2 separate regions of the Homo sapiens genome follow, and region 2 is linked to region 1. Evidence: fine-mapped expression QTL. A gene starts in region 1. The other region holds a variant in brackets. All regions are shown on one strand. Distances are from middle to middle.

Region 1 (9,452 bases):
CCAGAAAACAAAAGAGAGCTCTTAGAAATTAAATTTATAATAGAAGAAATGAAAAGTTCAATTCAATGTTTGACAGATACGCGCAGGAAAATCTTCCAGAAAGTAGAACCAAACAAAACAAAATGAAAAATGAAGCCTGGGCGCGGTGGCTCACGCTTGTAATCCTTGCACTTTGGTAGGCCGAGATGGGTGGATCACCAGAGGTCGGGAGTTTGAGACCAGCCTGACCAACATGGAGAAACTCCGACTCCACTAAAAATAACAAAATTAGCCCTGCGTGGTGGCACATGCCTGTAATCCCAGCTACTCGGGAGGCTGAGGCAGGAGAATCACTTGAACCCAGGAGGTGGAGGTTGCAGTGAGCAGAGATCGTGCCATTGCACTCCAGCCTGGGCAACAAGAGCAAAAAAACTCCGACACACACACACACACACACACACACACACACACGCCGGGCGCGGTGGCTCACGCCTGTAATCCTAGCACTTTGGGAGGCCGAGGCGGGCAGATCACGAAGTCAGAAGATTGACACCATCCTGGCTAATACGGTGAAACCCCGTCTCTACTAAAAACACAAAAAATTAGCCGGGCGAGGTGGCGGGCTCCTGTAGTCCCAGCTACTCCGGAGGCTGAAGCAGGATAATGGCGTGAACCCGGGAGGCGGAGCTTGCAGTGAGCGGAGATCCCGCCTCCCGCCACTGTACTCCAGCCTGGGCGACAGAGCGAGACTCCGTCTCAAAAAAAAAAAAAAAGAAAAAAGAAAAGAAAAATGAAAACATAATCTGAGAAAATTAGAGGAACAGTCCAGGAAGTCTAGTATCTGAAAAATAGGGTGTCCAGAAGAAAAAAAAAACGGAGAGAAAGTCTTCAAAGGAATAATTAGTAGAAGAGATCATTTCCCAGTGTTAAAGGACATGAGTTTCTTTGCTGAATTGCAAAGTTACAACAGGTGTTCCACACAAAAGATGACAATGAAACATGCCCAGACACATCACTGTAAAATTAAGAAAAATGAGAAGGTGGGGCACAGAGAGGAACATCCTGAAGACTTCAAGAAAGTAAAAAACAAGTTACACACAAAAGATTAACAAATCAAAAGGGCACTAAGTGTCTGGAGATTGGGAATGAACACAGGGTTCACCACACAAAGTGCCCCAGATGTAAGATCTGAACCTCACTAATTCCCCTTTCTCACCACAACCTCCACTTCTGTTTTTCACCTTCTTTGTAATATTTTAATTCATTAATCTCATCTTGAACTTACTTGCCTTTAGCTTTTCTTTATTCCTGCCCAGAAAAGCACATCCAGAGATTCAAAGGCAACAATAAAAAGCAGGGCTTAAGAGTGTGGGCTCTGCATTATCCAAAGCAAACTTGTCACAGAGAAAACCTCAAAATCAGGGTTCAGCCTGAGTGGCCATGTGGGTTCTCAGCTTCATGCAGGAAGGAATTCAAGAGCAATCTGACAGAATAAAGTGAAAGCAAGTTTGTTAAGAAAGTAAAGGAATAAAGAGTGGCTACTTCATAGGCAGAGCAATGGCAAGGACTGCTAGACTGAGTATATTTATGGTTATTCCTTGATCATATACTAAACAAGGGGTGGATTATTCATGAGTTTTCCAGGAAAAAGGTGGGGAATTCCTGGAACGGAGCGTCCTCCCTTGTTAGACCATGTAGGGTAACTTCTCTAAGTGGGCATGGCAAGGGGCAAACTGTCAAGGTGCTGGTGGGAGTGTCTTTTAGCATGTTAATCCATTGTAATTAGCATATAATGAGCAGTGAGGATGGCCAGAGGTCACTTTGGTCACCATCTTGGTTTTAGCAGGTTTCAGTCCTCTTCTTTACCTATCCTGTTTTATCAGCCAGGTCTTTATGATCTTATCCTGTGAAATCAGTCCTGCCAACCTCCTATCTCAAACTAACACAGGAAAGAAATAAAATACTGTGTGTTCTCACTTATTAGTTGGAGCTAACATTGTGTACAGGTGGACACAAAGAAGGGAACAATAGATACTGGGTACTACTTGAGGGTGGAGGGTGAAAGGAGAGTATGGATCAAAAAACTACCTATTGGGTTCTATGCTTATCACATGGGTAAGGAAATAATCTGATCCCCAAACCCCCGAGACACTCAATTTACCTATATAACAAACCTGCACATGTACCTCTGAACCTAAATTAAAGTTTAAAACAACAACAACAACAACAAAAACCCGAAGAAAAGTATGGGCTCTGGTGTCAAATTACCAGGGTTAGAACCATGAATTAAGTGTGACCTTAGAAAGTCACTTATACTTTCTAAGCCTTGGTTATTTCATCTGTAAATTAAAGGTGATGATAACAGTCCCAATTTAGGATCAAATGAGATATTGCAATGCCGGACACATTAAAAGTGTCTCCATGGGACTAGCCCAAACTGAGCCTACTCTGTTGATAACAAAATGTCGTGTTACCTTTTAGATGTAACAGAGCCAAAAACTGAAAGTCATGTAGCCCAGTCATGTGCAATAGAAAAAGCCTGGACCTCTAACAACACCCAAAACCAGTGAATCCTTTCCTTGGAACCAAGACCGGGACATGACTGGAACCTGAACTTGGAACTCTTTCAAAAGTGTTGGGTCCATTTGCCTGGAGGATCAGGCCTAAAATCGGCCTCTACGTACCTTTTTCTAAATGGTCAAATTTCAAGTCCTCCATTCTGCCTGCCAAGACACATTCCTAAATTCTTCCCTTGGCTTTCCAAGCCCATAAGTTTACCCCAGACTCTAAATCAGGGAAACAGATTTGAATGCACTCCTATCTCCTTGCTGACCAGTTGTGCAAATAAAGACTTTTTTTCCTCAAAAGCTTGTGCCACATAGTATTGGCTTCTGTGCATGCATTGGATAGAGAGCTCATTTGCTTGATAACAAAAACAAGCTATTAATACCTATTATTTCTATTATTATCCATACCTCTAGCTCCCACCATGTTAAATATTCCTATAACTTTCATTTCTACCTTAAAATTTTCTTTATCCAATAAGTTTTCGCTTAGAAGCTATCTACCACAGGTATCTTCCTTTAATATCACAACCGTCTACCCAGCCACCCAAATCAGAAACCTGGAAGTTATCCTTGATTCTGTTTGTTTACTTCCTATGTCCAAATAATAAAATTCTTATAATTCTTCTTCCTGAATAGCTCCTTTATTCATCCTCTTCTGCCTCTCCCTTCCTCCATGGCTCCAATTTAGACTCTAGATTTCTACCTTAGCCTCGCAAGTGGTCTCTAACTCTAAACGTTTCCATATTTTTGTCCAGGATTTTTTTTTTTTTTTATATAGGGTCTCTGACATCCAGGCTGGAGTGCAGTGGCACGATCATAGCTTATTGCAGCCTTTGGGCTCATTGACCTCCTGGGCTTAAGTGGTTCTCCCGCCTCAGCCTTCCAAGCAACCGGGACCATAGGCATGTGCCACCCACCCAGCTAATTAAAATAAATTTTATTTGTAGAGGTGGAGTCTCACTATGTTGCCCAGGCTGGTCTTGAATTCCTGGGCTCAGACAATCCTTCCACTGTGGCCTCCCAAAATGTTAGGATTAGAGGTGTGAGCCACAGCACCAGGCTTAGATTCCTTTATTCACAAAAGGTGTAAAGGTGATCTCATTTTATATACATGTCAACTAAAGAAAAAAATCAGGCTTTTAAAGACTCAAAGTTAGTTTTATTCGGAGTCTTACTGAGGAATGCAACCCTGGAGAGTCTTTCAAAGAGTTTATGTTATACTGGTCCAAAGCAGCTGTTCTGCCCCCAGTTTCTACATCAAGGGATGGAGTTCTGCATGTGCTCAAAAGTTACATTAAACGTGCTCAGAAGTTACGTTGGAGCAAAATCTCATCAAAGTTTTGTTTGGAGACTACATCTGGTTATAGATTACAGAGGCATAATCATTAATCCTGTCACACGTTATCTTACGTACAGGAAGAGGCAAGAGCTAGGATCGCTGACTGTATCTTTTTAAAAAATGAAGTGATTCAAGCAACAGATGTGAAAACTTGTGCTCTATCCTACTTATTGTCTTCAGGGCATTCTTCTGGAGGACTGCGTTCAGTCACTGAGTCAGGGGCTTTGTGAAATTTCGCTGGCAACAGAATGAGCAAACATGGTTTCTTCCGTTTCGTACTTTGTCTCGCATACATGATTTCCTATGCTCAAACCTGGCAGGAAAGTTTTTTTATTTTTTCAGTCTTTGAGCTATAGTAATCCTTCACTGGGTTTTAAGTCAGTGGGGTTTTTTGACATCAAATTGTTAAACTACAAGTCATGTTTCCTTTAACGTGAAAATTACCTAGTCTGAATAAATTCTGATGTAACTATAACTCGACAAATTATGATATTTTCAACTTACGATGGGTTTATTGCGGGGAGGGGGCAGCCCTATCGTAAGTAGAGGAACTCTATACACGTTTGAAAATATCGCTGGGCTCCAGGGTTAACCGGTCTCTAACCCATTCTTTACTGGACCTGCCAACTTCGCGCAGGGTTGGTAACCTAGCAACCAAGCAACACGAGCAGTGACTTCCGGTACCCGGACTTGGGTTGTCCAATCAGCTCAGCGAAGCCGCCGCAGAGGCTGATGGGGGGCTGGAGGCTGTGAGGCTTCCAGCGTCGGTACCATGGCGACGCGCGGTGGGGCTGGGGTGGCAATGGCGGTTTGGTCCCTCTTATCCGCCCGGGCCGTGACCGCGTTCCTTCTGTTGTTCCTCCCTCGCTTCTTACAGGCCCAGACCTTCTCTTTCCCTTTCCAGCAGCCGGAGAAGTGCGACAACAACCAGTACTTTGATATCTCCGCCCTCTCGTGTGTTCCTTGTGGAGCTAACCAGAGGCAAGATGCCCGAGGTAAGACGGTTTGCGGTGGGCCCTGGCAAAAGTAACACTCCCGCCTTGGTCGGCCCCTAGTCCCCGTAAATGGAGTTTCACCATGTTGATCAGGCTAGTCTCGAACTTCTGACCTCAGGTGATCCACCCGCCTCCGCCTCCCAAAGTGCTGGGATTACAGGCGTGAGCCACCGCGCCTGGCCCGAATACATGTATATTGTTTAGTGACGTAGAAATGTAAAATTTCCAGCAGCAGTTAAGTAGTTTAATAGTTTAGTTATACTTGCACTTAAAATGGTAGCAGCATAATACCAGCTGTGTGCCAGTGTAAGACCTCTACGTATAATAACTAATTTTGTACTCATACTAACCCTGTGAGGTAGGTACCAATTTTTTTTCTCCATTTTATTGTAGAGGAAGCCAAGGCAGAGAGTTTAGTAACTTGTTCAAGGTCATGCAACTGAGTAGGATTACTACGATTGGAACTCAAGAAGTGTATTTCTGGATTTGAACCCAGGCAGTACTGCCTCCAGAATCCTGCTGTTAATCACTATACTGCTTCTCAAGATCTTCAGACTTATTAAAAGTTTCACTATCTGGGAACTTTATTTTTATTTATCAAGGATAAAATTGGCTTTTTTTTTTTTTTTTTTTTTTTTAGGAACTTCATGTGTATGTCTACCAGGATTTCAGATGATCTCTAATAATGGAGGACCTGCTATTATTTGTAAAAAGTGCCCAGAAAACATGGTGCGCATAATTTATTTTAAAATAACTTACCTGTAAAAAGTAGTAAGTTAAATATCTTTATTTTTCAAAATATAATTTAATGTTTAATGTTTCCCCACAGACTTTAAAATTACTATGCTAATTTTATTTTTACTAGAGTAAGTTTTGGGAGATCAGCGAAATTTCATGCAAACTTGGAGAAAACAGAAATGTATTTCTTTTAAAATCTGAAATCCAAAAACCACAAAGCTGTAAAAATTTAAGTTTTTGTTTTTACTCGTAGAATAACTCGGTTATGAAGAAAATTAGATGAATAAGGCATATATAGAGCAGTCTGGGATGTGTGCAATTTGGGATGTGTATATTCTTTTGACTGATGCAAGTGGAGTTGTCTTAGACCTACCATGTCAACAGTTTATATGATTATTGATGTTCATAATGATATCTAAGGTGTAATTATTTCATGAAATACCAATTGCATTAATAGATTAAATAATGTCTGTTTCTGTTTTGTTAGTAATTTCATTGTATCGTAATTTAAAAAAAATTAGTAAATAGTTACTATATATAATTCTCAACATAAATATATTTTTCAATCATGTTGGATAATTAAAAGTCTGTGTAACAGTTGTGACATTTACAGTAATGTTTCTTCTCATTGTCATATAAAAAATATTAATTCTGGGAATTTAATGTGAAGTTATCAATTGTCCCAATTTATAGCTATCTGTATTACTTGTAAGTCTGATTACCACTTTTTATATTACCATTTATTTTATATCTTTATAATAGATTATAATAGATTACCATTTATTTTATATCTTTGCAAATATTGATCCTAGCTGAATTACCCATGATAAAAAGCTGCTAATAAAAAGTGGTCTCGCAGCAGATTTCTTTTTCAGTGACATTGTTTAAGTTATTGTAATTTTTAAATTGTCCTGTATAGGCCAGGCACAGTGGCTCATGCCTGTAATCCCAGCAGTTTGGGAGGCTGAGCCTGGTGGATCATGAGCTCAGGAGTTTGAGACCAGCCTGGCCAATATGGTGAAACCCCATCTCTACTAAAAATACAAAAATGAGCTGGCTGTGGTGGCGCGTGCCTGTAGTCCCAGCTGCTTGGGAGGCTGAGGCAAGAGAATCGCTTGAACTCAGGAGGCAGAGGTTGCAGTAAGCCAAGATTGCACCATTGCACTCCAGCCTGGGTGACAGAGCGAGACTCTGTCTCAAAAAAATAAATAAAATATAAATAAATAAATAAATAAATAAATAAATAAATAAATAAATTGTCCTGTATAAATGTATTGCCAAATATAGGAGTATTTCTTGATAAATTCAGTCTTTTCAACCAAAATTTAAAATAATTTGTGGCATTATTTTTGTTCTTTATAAACTTTGGTTACATCTGTGTTTGTAATTATTGTGTTTTTTGCCCCAGGCTTTTCCTAAACCATATGATATAATAAGCCCAATTTTGAATGCTGTCATACTTTATCAAAAACCTTTACTAGGCCGGGCGCGGTGGCTCACGCCTGTAATCCCAGCACTTTGGGAGGCTGAGGCAGGTGGATCACGAGGTCAAGAGATCAAGACCATCCTGGCAAATGTGGTGAAACCCCATCTCTACTAAAAATACAAAAATTAGCTGGACGTGGTGGCACGTGCCTGTAGTCCCAGCTACTCGGGAGGCTGAGGCAGGAGAATTGTTTGAACCTGGGAGGCAGAGCTTGCAGTGAGCCGAGATTGTGCCACTGCACTCCAGCCTGGCAACAGAGCAAAGACTCTGTCTCAAAAAAAAAAAAACCTTTACTAGTACAAGCCATAAATGGATAGAAGAAAATATTCTCATAAATCAATTTTAACAACTATGTGTATAATTTATATATTTCATAAAATTTACCCATTTTGAATCATAAATGAATTTTTTTTTTTTTTGAAAGAGAGTATTACTGTTGCTCAGGCTGGAGTGCAGTGGCACGATCTCAGCTCACTGCAACCTCCACCTTTCTGGTTCAAGCCATTCTGGTGCCTCAGCCTCCCAAGTAGGATTATAGGCATACACCACCACGCCCAGCTAATTTTTGTATTTTTAGTAGAGACGAGGTTTCACCACATTGGCCAGGCTGGCCTCAAGCTTTGGCCTCAAGTGATCCACCCACCTTGGCCTCCCAAAGTGCTGGAATTACAGACGTGAGCCACTGTGCCTGGACTAAATTTTTTAGGTATTTGAATTTTTAAAAATTAGAATAGAGTTTTAGAACAGGTAAGATTAACCTATTAACTGACCGTTGATTCAATCTTTTTGTGTTGTGTTGTGTTTTATATTTGTAAATGGAAAAACGAAATGACAAATAATTATGAAAGAGGCATCCATTTGAATTAAAGATCCTGAAGAAGAGAGAACTATTATCCGGAGTTAATCCTTTAATAGTTTTCAGGACATAGTGATAATATAGAGCTTCATTTTGGAATATAAGCATGAATTATCTCTCCAGGGAATTTTTATGTGGCTCATATATGTATGATTTATTTGAATATTCACTGTAGTTACATACTCTTATGGCATTTTGAACTTACATGATTAGAAGAAGAAAGTTAATTAAAAAAGAGAAAAGCATTTTTTTTCTTTTAATTTAGAAAGGTGTTACAGAAGATGGCTGGAACTGCATTTCTTGCCCTAGTGACTTAACTGCCGAAGGAAAATGTCACTGTCCCATTGGCCATATTTTAGGTAAGAATTAGATTCCTTATAAAGAAGTAGTGATAAATCTTCATTCTTGTTTTTGTTTTTATTTGAAAAGGGCACTAATTTAAATAGTTAAGTGATTACTTAATATTTTTGCAGTGGCTCAAGCAATTCTCCTGCCTCAGCTTCCTGAGTAGCTGGGACTGCACACATAACACCACTGCAGCTGGCTAATTTTTAAATTTTTTGTAGAGACTGGGTCTCGTTATGTTGCTCAGCCTGGTCTTGAACTCCTGGCCTCGAGAGATCTTCCTGCCTCAGCCTCCTAAAGTGCTGGGATTATAGGCATCAGTCACTGTGTCCAGCCCTTAATAGTGTTTATAAAAATTATTTTTGTACAAATTAATGATACTTAAAACATCAGCAGGCATTGAGAAGAAAATACAAAGTTTTGTCTGAGTTTTTTAAAACTCTTAATATTGTAGGATTAGATGGTTATTTCCTTAACATAACATGACAAAATATGTCTCAACTCAAAAGCCAACTTGATACTTAATAGGGAAAAAGCGTAAGCATTCCTGTTAATGTCAGGACCTGGAAAAGGATGCAAACTATGCACTTAAGTAAGAGAAAAAAAATATTTATCATTGGAAAAGAAAAGGTAGGCCGTTGTTAATCCTAGCACTTTGGAAGGCTAAGGCAGGTGTATTGCTTGAGCTCAAGAGTTTGAGACCAGTCTGGGCAACATGGTGAAACCGCATCTCTACAAATAAAAAAAAAAATTATTTGGTTACGGTGGCATGCACCTGTAGTCCCAGCTACTCGAGAGGCAAAGGTGGGAAGATCGCTTGAGCCTGGAAGGTCAAGGCTACAGTGAGCTGAGATGGCGCCACTGCACTCCAGCCTGAGCGACAGGGTAAGACCCTGTCTCATGAAAAAAAAAAAAAAAAAAAGTAAAATATCATTGTTTACAGATGATTTGATTGTATGTTTAAAACACCCAACAGAATGACTAAAAATTATTATAAACAGTGATGGAAGAAAATACCTCATATACAGTAGCAACAAAAAAGAAAAAATAAGTAGGCATATCCTTTTTTTTAATTTTAATTTTTATTTTTGTTTTTTTTTTTTTGAGACAGAGTTTTCACTGTTGTTGCCCAGGCTAGAGTGCAATG
Region 2 (9,452 bases), 40 kb after region 1:
GTCAAGTCATGAAACTACATTGATGAAGTCCACCTCAAATTATTCTAATTATAAAATATACAATTCTTTCATCATTTCTTAATTTCTCGTGGCAGCTGTTGCAAAATTTTACATCAGTTGTAAACATCCAGCTATGTCTCTGCTCTTTATCTGGTCTTGAGCAGATCAGGACCATCTAATATGAATTCCTTAAGATTTCCTCTTTAATATTTCAGAATCTCTGATTCATTGTCCTTCCCATTTCTTGTTCCTGTTTCTAAGAAAGAAGGTCCCTTCCTCTCTTCCTAAACTAATCTTCTATCTAAACTCATTTACAGTACCTTTTCCAATATCCTGTTCCATCCCTAATGTCTTATTCAGCCAAGTCTCTCTGCAAGTCCCTTTCCTTTGCTTATAAAAACTCTGAGATTGCCTTATCTTAAAAACAAACTAAAACAACCAACTAAACAAACAAACATTTTACTCAGTTCTGCCAGCTGCCCAGCTTGCTATTATATCTCTTCTTCATTTCCCAACCATTTATTCTTTCATCATTTGCAGTCTGGCTCTTGCCATTTACTTCTTTGAAAACCTCTTTCATGAAAGTCAGCAATGATTTCCACATATAGTGGCTTTCTTTACCTTGACATTTATACAACATTTGACACTGTACTCAACCTCCTCCTCCTTCTTGAAACTCCCTATTCTGTGACCATGGTAAGACTTAGGTATCTTCCTCTCCTACCCCTCACAGTCCTCTTCTCTGACCCTTTACTAGGTTCTTCTTTCTCTTGTCTCTTAATGTAGTGGTATCTTTAAGATTTTGTTCAGACCTTTGATTAATCTGCGGTTTAGCAACTGGTGGTTTACCCAATTGCTAAATTCCTGATGCACAAGTTTAGTCAAATTCCTCAGTTACAGAAGTCTATCAGAAAATGAAATATGATTAGTTTGTGCATGAATTTAACTTATCTCCTAATGAGCCCCTTTTTTAATGTATGTGAAAGGATATTTAAAGCAGCACAAGTAATTCTCAAAAGCATATCTATTTACGTGTAAGTTAAAGGTCAACTCTAGTAATATTGATAGTTAAAAACTATAGTGTTTATGGTAAAACCCAGCTACAAATGTATTTTTATAACAAAAATAAGTTTGTATCATATAATTTCAGTATAGCTAATTTGTTTTGTTTTAAATATCAGGTTTCTTTCTCAGTCACATATGAAATGGATCATGGAGAAGCACATGTCCAGACAGATGTAAGTTTATTTTAACCTTTTAAAATATATACAGTGTATTTTATAATTAAATGATTTCAGATGTGCAAGAAGTTGCTAAAACAAATTTGCCAGCTATTCTTTCCCCAGACTCCCCTAATGTTAGCATACAAAACCTTAGTACAATGATCATAATCTGGAAATTAATATTGATGTAGTCCTATTAACTAAACTACATACTATTTGAATTTCACTATTGAATTTTTTTCTGTTTCAGGACCCAATCTAGGGTCACATATTGCTTTTAGCTGTCATATCTCGTTAGTGTTTTACAATGTGTGACAGATTCTTAGTCTTTCTTTGTCTTTCATGACCCTAACACTTCTGAAGAGTACTGGTCCATTATTTTGGCCCTCAATTTGGGTTTGTCTGGTATTTTCCCATGATCAAATTGAGTTCATATAGTTTTGGCAAAGATGCCACCAAAGTGATGCTATAATAATAAATAAAAATAAGTATCTCATGGGGGAGATTCTTTGAAATTATGCAAACATCCTGCTTCTTCTTATTCTTCTTATTCTCCCCCTCTCATTTTTTTTTTGAGACGGAGTTTTGCACTTGTTGCCCAGGCTGGAGTGCAATGGCACGATCTTGGCTCACCGCAACCTCTGCCTCCCGGGTTCAAGCGATTCTCCTGTCTCAGCCTCCTGAATATCTGGGATTACAGGCATGTGTCACCACACCCAGCTAATTTTTGTATTTTTAGTAGAGATGGGGTTTCTCCATGTTGGTCAGGCTGGTCTCGAACTCCCAACCTCAGGTGATCCACCTGCCTCAGCCTCCCAAAGTGCTGGGAATACAGGGGTGAGCCACCATGCCCAGCCGGCCCTCTAATTTTATTTTATTTTATTTTAAATGGAGTCTCACTCTGTCGCCCAGTCTGGAGTGCAGTGGCGCTATCTCGGCCCACTGCAACCTTCACCTAGCTGGTTTAAGCAATTCCCCTGCCTCAGCCTCCCTAGTAGCTGGGATTACGGGCACACACCACCACGCCCAGCTAATTTTTTAATATTTTTAGTAGAGACAGGGTTTCATCATATTGGCCAGACTGGTCTCGAACTCCTGACCTCAGGCAATCCGCCCGTCTCGGCCTCCCAAAATGCTGGGATTACAGGCGTGAGCCACGGTGCCCGGCCCTCTAATTTTATTAAATAGCATCCATTGATGATTTTGCCTGCAGAAAGTTTCACTGTGATATTTGCCTGATGGTGATTTTCTGTTTCCCTAATTACTTTTTTATTTATTAATTTGGAACTTTACTATAAGGAGAAACTCCCTTTGCTCACATTATTTATTCAATTATTTATTTTTAAATCAGTGTGAACTCATATTTATTTTATTCTAGTAATTATAATATATTATTATTTGTTTTCTTGTTCAAATTGTCCCAGATTTGGCCATTACAAGTTCCTCCAACTTGACTCCTGTGTCCTTTCTTTTTTTTTTTTTTTGAGATGGAGTCTCACTCTGTCGCCCAGGCTGGAGTGCAGTGGCGCGATCTTGGTGGCTCACTGCAAGCTCCGCTCCCAGGTTCATGCCATTCTCCTGCCTCAGCCTCCCCAGTAGCTGGGACTACAGGCACCCACCACCATGCCCAGCTAATTTTTTGTATTTTTAGTAGAGACGGGTTTCACCGTGTTAGCCAGGATGGTCTTGATCTCCTGACCTCATGATCCGCCTGCCTCGGCCTCCCAAAGTGCTGGGATTACAGGTGTGAGCCACTGTGCCCGGCTGACTCCTGTGTCCTTTCAACATTTCCCACCCCACCATTTTTTTGAGCACTTCCTTACTTGTTCACAGTGTTTTTGAACACCGATGACAGAAATTACATAAATTCTCAATTGTTCTTTTGTTTTTTAGATTGCTTTGGGTGTATTGGGTGGGCTAGCTGTTTTAGCATCTCTTTTGAAGACAGCAGGATGGAAGAGGCGCATTGGGAGTCCCATGATTGATTTACAGGTATAATCTCAGGAGTTTTTTAAGAATATTTTTATCTTTTGACCATTCTGGATCCTTCTCATAAGACACAGCTAGAGAATAAGTAAAAAAGTTGCATTGAATTTTTCTGGGATATGTAATTAGGGTAAGTATTGCTGGGTCATATGGTATATGTGTACCTCATTTTCTTCCCACCATACTGTATGCCAGTCTATATTCCCACCAGCAATGCTCTTCTTATTTCTGCACATACTTGGCAACACTTGATATTTTTCCAACCTTTTCATTTTTTGCCAACCTCATGGCATATAGTAGTATGTCATTGTTGATTTCATTTTCATTTCTCTGTACTCTTCATATACATTTTAATCGTTTGGGTTTCTCCTTCTGTGAACTGCCTGTTTATATCCCTTGCCCATTTCTCTATTATGTTTCCAGTTTTTATTGTTTATTTGAAGAATTTTTTTTTGTATTTTCTAAATAGTAACCCCTTTTTGGTTTCTGATGTTGAAATATATGACCAAATAAATATGTGACCCATCCGTTATTTTTATCCATGTAGTCCTTTGTTTAACAGAAACTTTCAGGTTTGTTTTTGTTTTCATTTTTGTTTTTTTTTGTTGTTGTTTTTTTGAGACGGAGTCTCACTCTGTCGCTGAGGCTGGAGTGCAGAGGCACAATCTTGGTTCACTTGCAACCTCTGCCTCCCGGGTTCAAGCAATTCTCCTGCCTCAGCCTCCTGAGTAGCTGGAATTACAGGCGCACACCACCATGCCTGGCTAATTTTTGTATTTTTAGTAGAGACGGGGTTTCACCATGTTGTTCAGGCTGGTCTTGAACTCCTGGCCTCATGATCCGCCCACCTCAGCCTCCCAAAGTGCTGGGATTACAGGCATGAGCCACCACGCCTGGCCAGAAACTTTTGGTTTTGATATCATCATATCTGAATATTTTTTTTCATGTTATGATACGTGCTTTTGGGATCTTGTTTAGGAAAACCGTCCCTATATCAAGATCACAAAGATAGTCCACATTTTATTCTATTAACTTTATACTTTCACTTCATGGTTAACCTTTTATTTTTATTAAACATTTAAAAAATATTTACCATGTACCAGGCACTTTTTAAAGCTTTATGTATGTAATTTTCTGAATCCGCACAGTAGCTCTTTGAAGTTAGGTTATTATTATTATTTGCGTTTTACACGTGATGAAATTGAGGTAAAGGTTAAATTTTCTACTCACTTGATTTTTGCAACTCAGTAATAGGTATTTCCGTTTTGTTGATGAAGAACATGAGAAAGGTTACATGGTAGCTTTAACCAAAGTATCTTTCTGATTCCAAAGCCAGTGGGCTAAGGAATCAGCAGGGGTACTTGATTTACTACTTGGGATAGTCCAGAAAGGCTTCCCAGAGAAATGAACTTTAAGTGGGATTATCTGTTCATTCTA[T/C]AATAGTCACTGAGGCTCTATTGTCTAAGTGTCTGGCACTCTACCAGGAGCTGGAGAATGTGTTAGTGAGCAAAGACAGACATAGTCTGTGCTCTCAGAAATCATGAGAACTTACCAGAGAGGGGAAGAGAAGAATATTTGGTAAAACAATGCCCATTTTATTCCAGAAAGTATTTGAGATGAACGTATGGAGTGGTTAGTCATTGACTACATGGCTGGAACTGGCAGATGAGGCTAAAAAGTTAATTTTGGCCCATATTGTGAAAGACCTTGTGGATCAGGAATTTATATTGCAATGAGGAGTTGTTCATTTTTAACAAGGGGAGTGACACAATCCAATTTACATCTTAGAAAACTAACTCTGGTGGTAGTGTGGAGGAGAGATTAGAGGGGAGGATTCCCAACTAAGAGAAAATTAGGAAGCAGTTCAATTTTCTTAGATAGTGAAAGATGAGAAGAGTTGAAAGAAGAGGCTACCAGGAACGGCCAGAAAGGTAAGGAGCCAAAAGGTAGCAAGGAGGAGGAAGCAGGTGGTCTTTATAGCTGGATCATATGGGGATATGTGAAACAAGGCTTCAGGCTTAAGAAATGGAGTGGATGATGTATAAAAGTGGTAGTGTTACTAAAAGTGGTATATACATGGAGTCTTAAACAGCTGTAATTCTTTTTTTTAAATTGCAGACAGTTGTGAAATTCTTGGTGTACTATGCTGGTGATCTGGCCAATGTTTTCTTTATCATCACAGTGGGAACAGGTCTTTACTGGCTTATTTTCTTCAAAGTGAGTGAGTTTCTGAATTTTCCCCAACTGCCAATATCTGAATAGTTGAAAAGCTTTCTTTATAAAGGAACTATTTTTATTTGAGAGAATTTTTGATCAACAGTATTAAGAAAAGTTCCCAACTCCCCATTCCTTGAGTGTGCTGAGCTTATCGATTACATCACTATCTTCCTCTTTTATGCTTTCTTTGGTTTATAAATTGTGCTTAGTAAAAACCTTGTTCAATTGGAAGACTTAGGTGGGAGGATCCTGTGAGTCCAGAATCAAGTCCTGCCCGGGCAGCATACTGAGACCCTCCTTTCCCAAAAAAAAACAAAAACGAAAACAAAAAACAAACAAACAAACAAAAAAAACTGTGTGTGATAATATTTAATCAAGTAATTTTTATTATAGGCACAGAAGTCTGTGTCTGTTTTGCTGCCAATGCCAATTCAGGAAGAACGTTTTGTCACTTATGTTGGATGTGCCTTTGCTCTGAAGGTAAGTTTTAAAGGACAGGTTACCAAATTTAAAAGGCCTGCTAATGAACTAACAAGTCTTTAAAATTAAAATGCTTTCAAAAATCTTTGGCGTGAAATTCACTTTGGTTTTGAAAGAAAGCATTAATTATTTTATGTGGTAAATTTACTTTTATTTATAGTAGATGCTCAGTCTGAAACTCTGCCTTAAATATTTTTTTCAAAGAAGCCATGAATTTGTATGGCTTATTTGATAAAATGATATTTCAGTATATAACTTTCTTTAAAGTCTGATGATACATTCACAATGGGACAAAATGTCTTCAGGCATGAATTTTGTCTCCATTAATCAAGGGTAAAAGGTACCACTCTGGATAAAGTGTTGAGATCTTAAAAGTTGTTTTGTCTGTCTCCAGATTCCTTTGCTCCTTTCTTCCTATGGCCCCCCAATCCCCAACTCAGTGTTCTCCATCAATGTAGGTGAATCTCTTTATATGCCTGTTGGTAGTCCTTATCCTATTTTACTGTGAGTGTTAAGTGTCTGCTTTTTCCACTGACTGGGAGCTTCTTGAGGTGAAGTATCTCATACTTAGATTTTTATCCTTTATTTGATGAATAATGCAGCAACTAGAAAGAATGCCTCAGTTTAAACATATTGCTTGTATAAATAAGAAAGATGTGTTTCAACAGCACATTCTTTAAAAATCAGAAATCTGAATAGCAGAAATAGAAAAAAAAGACAGTAAGAGCATTCGAAAACTTTAATTAGGAAAAACAAACTATAGTTGAAAATATCTTTACTTATAAAGAAGTCAGCTGATCTACAAAACAAAGTGTGCTTCTAGAATCTTTGGGAAAGAGTCAATTATATAAGTCCCTATGTGAGGAGGAGGAAAAATGTCTCCTCTTTTCATATTCCTATTTTAAAGAAAGAAAGAAAAAGGGAAGGTAAATTAAGATGTATATGAAAATTCTGTGAATTTGATGATTCCAGGTTATCTGATGAGCTTCTAATGATTCCTTAGTGGTATTATAACTTCATGTGAATTCACTCATAAAATTATATGTTCTTGTGATAACAGTATGTTTCTTAAAGAGTCAATATTGGTTTTATAAGCAGACTTAACGCTGGTACTTTTTCAGGTGTTTTATTATATGTCATTCTCAGGCACTACAATTTTTGCATAAGCTCATATCCCAGATTACAATAGATGTATTCTTTATTGATTGGGAGCGACCTAAAGGAAAGGTTCTTAAAGCTGTTGAAGGTAACTGAAATAAAAAATATTTGTACCAAAATTCTTTTGCTACCCTTGCAGAGCAAAGGAGGTAAAACTCTTTTACTCATTTTATTTTCCTGACCAGGTGAGGGTGGTGTACGAAGTGCCACTGTTCCTGTAAGCATATGGAGAACATATTTTGTAGCAAATGAATGGAATGAAATTCAGACTGTGAGAAAAATTAATTCACTCTTTCAAGTACTTACTGTCCTCTTCTTTTTGGAGGTATAAACTGTTTGATGTGATTATATGCGACTTACATGTACCTTATAAATATTAAACTAATATAATTCCAACTAAGTTTTCATGACAGTGGAAGATTTCTCTAAAGGTTGAAATATTGTTGTGAAGCCATTAAAAAGGAGTACCTTTATGTTACGTATTTTACCACAATTCTTTTTTTAAGTTTACCATCTTAAGCATTTTTAAGTGTAGAGTTTAATAGTGTTAAGTTGGCCAGGCACAGTGGCTCATGCCTGTAATCCCAACACTTTGGGAGGCTGAGGCAGGCGGATCACCTGAGGTTGGAAGTTCAAGACCAGCCTGGCCAACATGGAGAAACCCCGTCTCTACCAAAAAATACAAAATTAGCTGGGCATGGCGGCACATGCCTATAATCCCAGCTGCTCGGGAGGCTGAGGCAGGAGAATTGCTTGAACCCGGGAGGCGGAGGTTACAGTGAGCCGAGATTGCACCATTGAACTCCAGCCTGGGCAGAAAGAGCAAAACTCCATCTCAGAAAAAAACAAACAAACAAAAAGTAGTGTTACGTACATTCACATTGCCACGCAAAATCATCATCACCATTCATCTTAGAACTCTTCATCTTGCAAAACTGAAACTCTATACCCCTTAAACAACTCTGTACCCATTCCCTGCTACACCTAACCCCAGGCAACCACCATTCTATAATACTTTCTGTCTCTGTGTGTTTGACTGCTCTAGGTGTAAGGAGTAGCTTTAAAACCACTGGTTTGTATCAGAATCCCTTGGGGATCTTTTGTAAAATACCTATGCTCAGGCTCACCCTTAGAGACTATGTGTTGATTTAGTAGCTTTGAGGTAACTCCAGGTATCTATATTTTGAAAAAGCTCCCTACCCCCGATCCATATTCTCCCCTGCATTAGAATCACTATTATAAGTTTGATATTTTTCAACAAATTTGTATTGAACACTTACTGTAGACTATGTTCTGTGCTAAGAGCTGGGGCTACACTGAACAAAACACAACATGTTTGTGATACATATGCAGTTATTTCATGGATTTGGTTGGAATTATTAAAGGAAGTATTCAGTACTGAGTATAAGACTGAACATGGAAACAGTTTATATGGGAATAGGTTTTCTCAGGAATTATCTGCTTAATTAAGATTGAATATAAATCATTAACTCTTAGGTCTGTCTGTCTGCCTTCCCTCTTTTTTCTTCTTTCTTTCCATTCTCTTTCCCCTTTCCCTTCCTTTCCTTTTATAAAACTAGTAGAAGAATGTTTGTATCCCTAGGGCTTTAAAATAATATGAACAAGACTTCCAAAGTTCACTTGAAGTGGTATTTTGGTTTTTCTTAAATGGACAGATAAAAATTACATATGTTTATAGTTTACAATACAGTGTTTTGATATATGTATTCATTGTGGAATGGCTAAATCAAGCTAGTTTATCTGTTACCTCACATCTTTTCTTTTTGTACTAAAGTAGTGTGTGTGTGTGTGTGTGTGTGTGTGTGTGTGTGTGTGTGTTTAAGAGTTTCCTCAGCTTTAAAAGGTGTTATGTGAAAAAGTTTTATGGTCAAGTAAGTTTGGAAAATATTGGATTCAGTATAATCATGTAGCACCTTTTACTGTAAAACTTCTCAGAGCCTTTATTCTACAAGGGTGGGAGGCATGGAGGTGAGTGTAATGGATGGACCAAAAGTATTTAAACATAGATTCTTTTTTCAAGAACTTATGTCCTTTAGAAGACATTTTGTAATATACTGTTTTAAAGTATAAAAATGTTTAGTACAGTGCCTGGCACATGTCAAATACTCATGAAATACTACTTGTTGGTTTCACTCATTGGTAGTTTACTGATGAAAGTTTTATCCTTTTAATTAAATTTTTAGTCTTGTCAGTGTGTATGACAATAAGGTTATATTTGGCCCTTAGTCATATTGAGAAGAATGCCAAATGAGCTAACTAAATATTGTGTAATAAATACTTTGTAGTTAAAATACTATATAATAATTATTTTTATCTAGATTTTCTACTGTTTATACAAACTTAGATATTTTAGTTTTTCAAGGTGAG

Direction of the effects. Positions count from the first base shown, and alleles are read on the strand shown. Sizes are in standard deviations (SD) of each study's normalised expression.
As copies of C replace T in region 2, the expression in atrial appendage of the gene that starts at base 4,637 in region 1 goes down (large effect, 1.3 SD a copy in GTEx).

Evidence for each region. PIP is the estimated chance that this variant, and not a neighbour inherited with it, causes the effect.
Region 2: its variant is fine-mapped to the expression of TMEM67 in atrial appendage (GTEx, PIP above 0.99). The same link has a PIP of 0.9 or more in left ventricle.

The regions. Positions count from the first base shown.
Region 1 is chr8:93,750,258-93,759,709 of GRCh38, forward strand. TMEM67 (transmembrane protein 67) reads left to right here and starts at 4,637. Exons shown (of 28, transcript NM_153704.6): 1 at 4,637-4,880; 2 at 5,521-5,609; 3 at 8,226-8,319. The coding sequence starts at 4,658.
Region 2 is chr8:93,790,082-93,799,533 of GRCh38, forward strand. It overlaps TMEM67 (transmembrane protein 67), which reads left to right. Exons shown (of 28, transcript NM_153704.6): 15 at 1,182-1,238; 16 at 3,117-3,215; 17 at 5,328-5,426; 18 at 5,820-5,906; 19 at 7,053-7,152; 20 at 7,250-7,389. Among named protein-coding and RNA genes, the nearest start is that of TMEM67, 40 kb to the left of the region's middle. The variant T/C (reference allele first, on the strand shown) is at 4,647.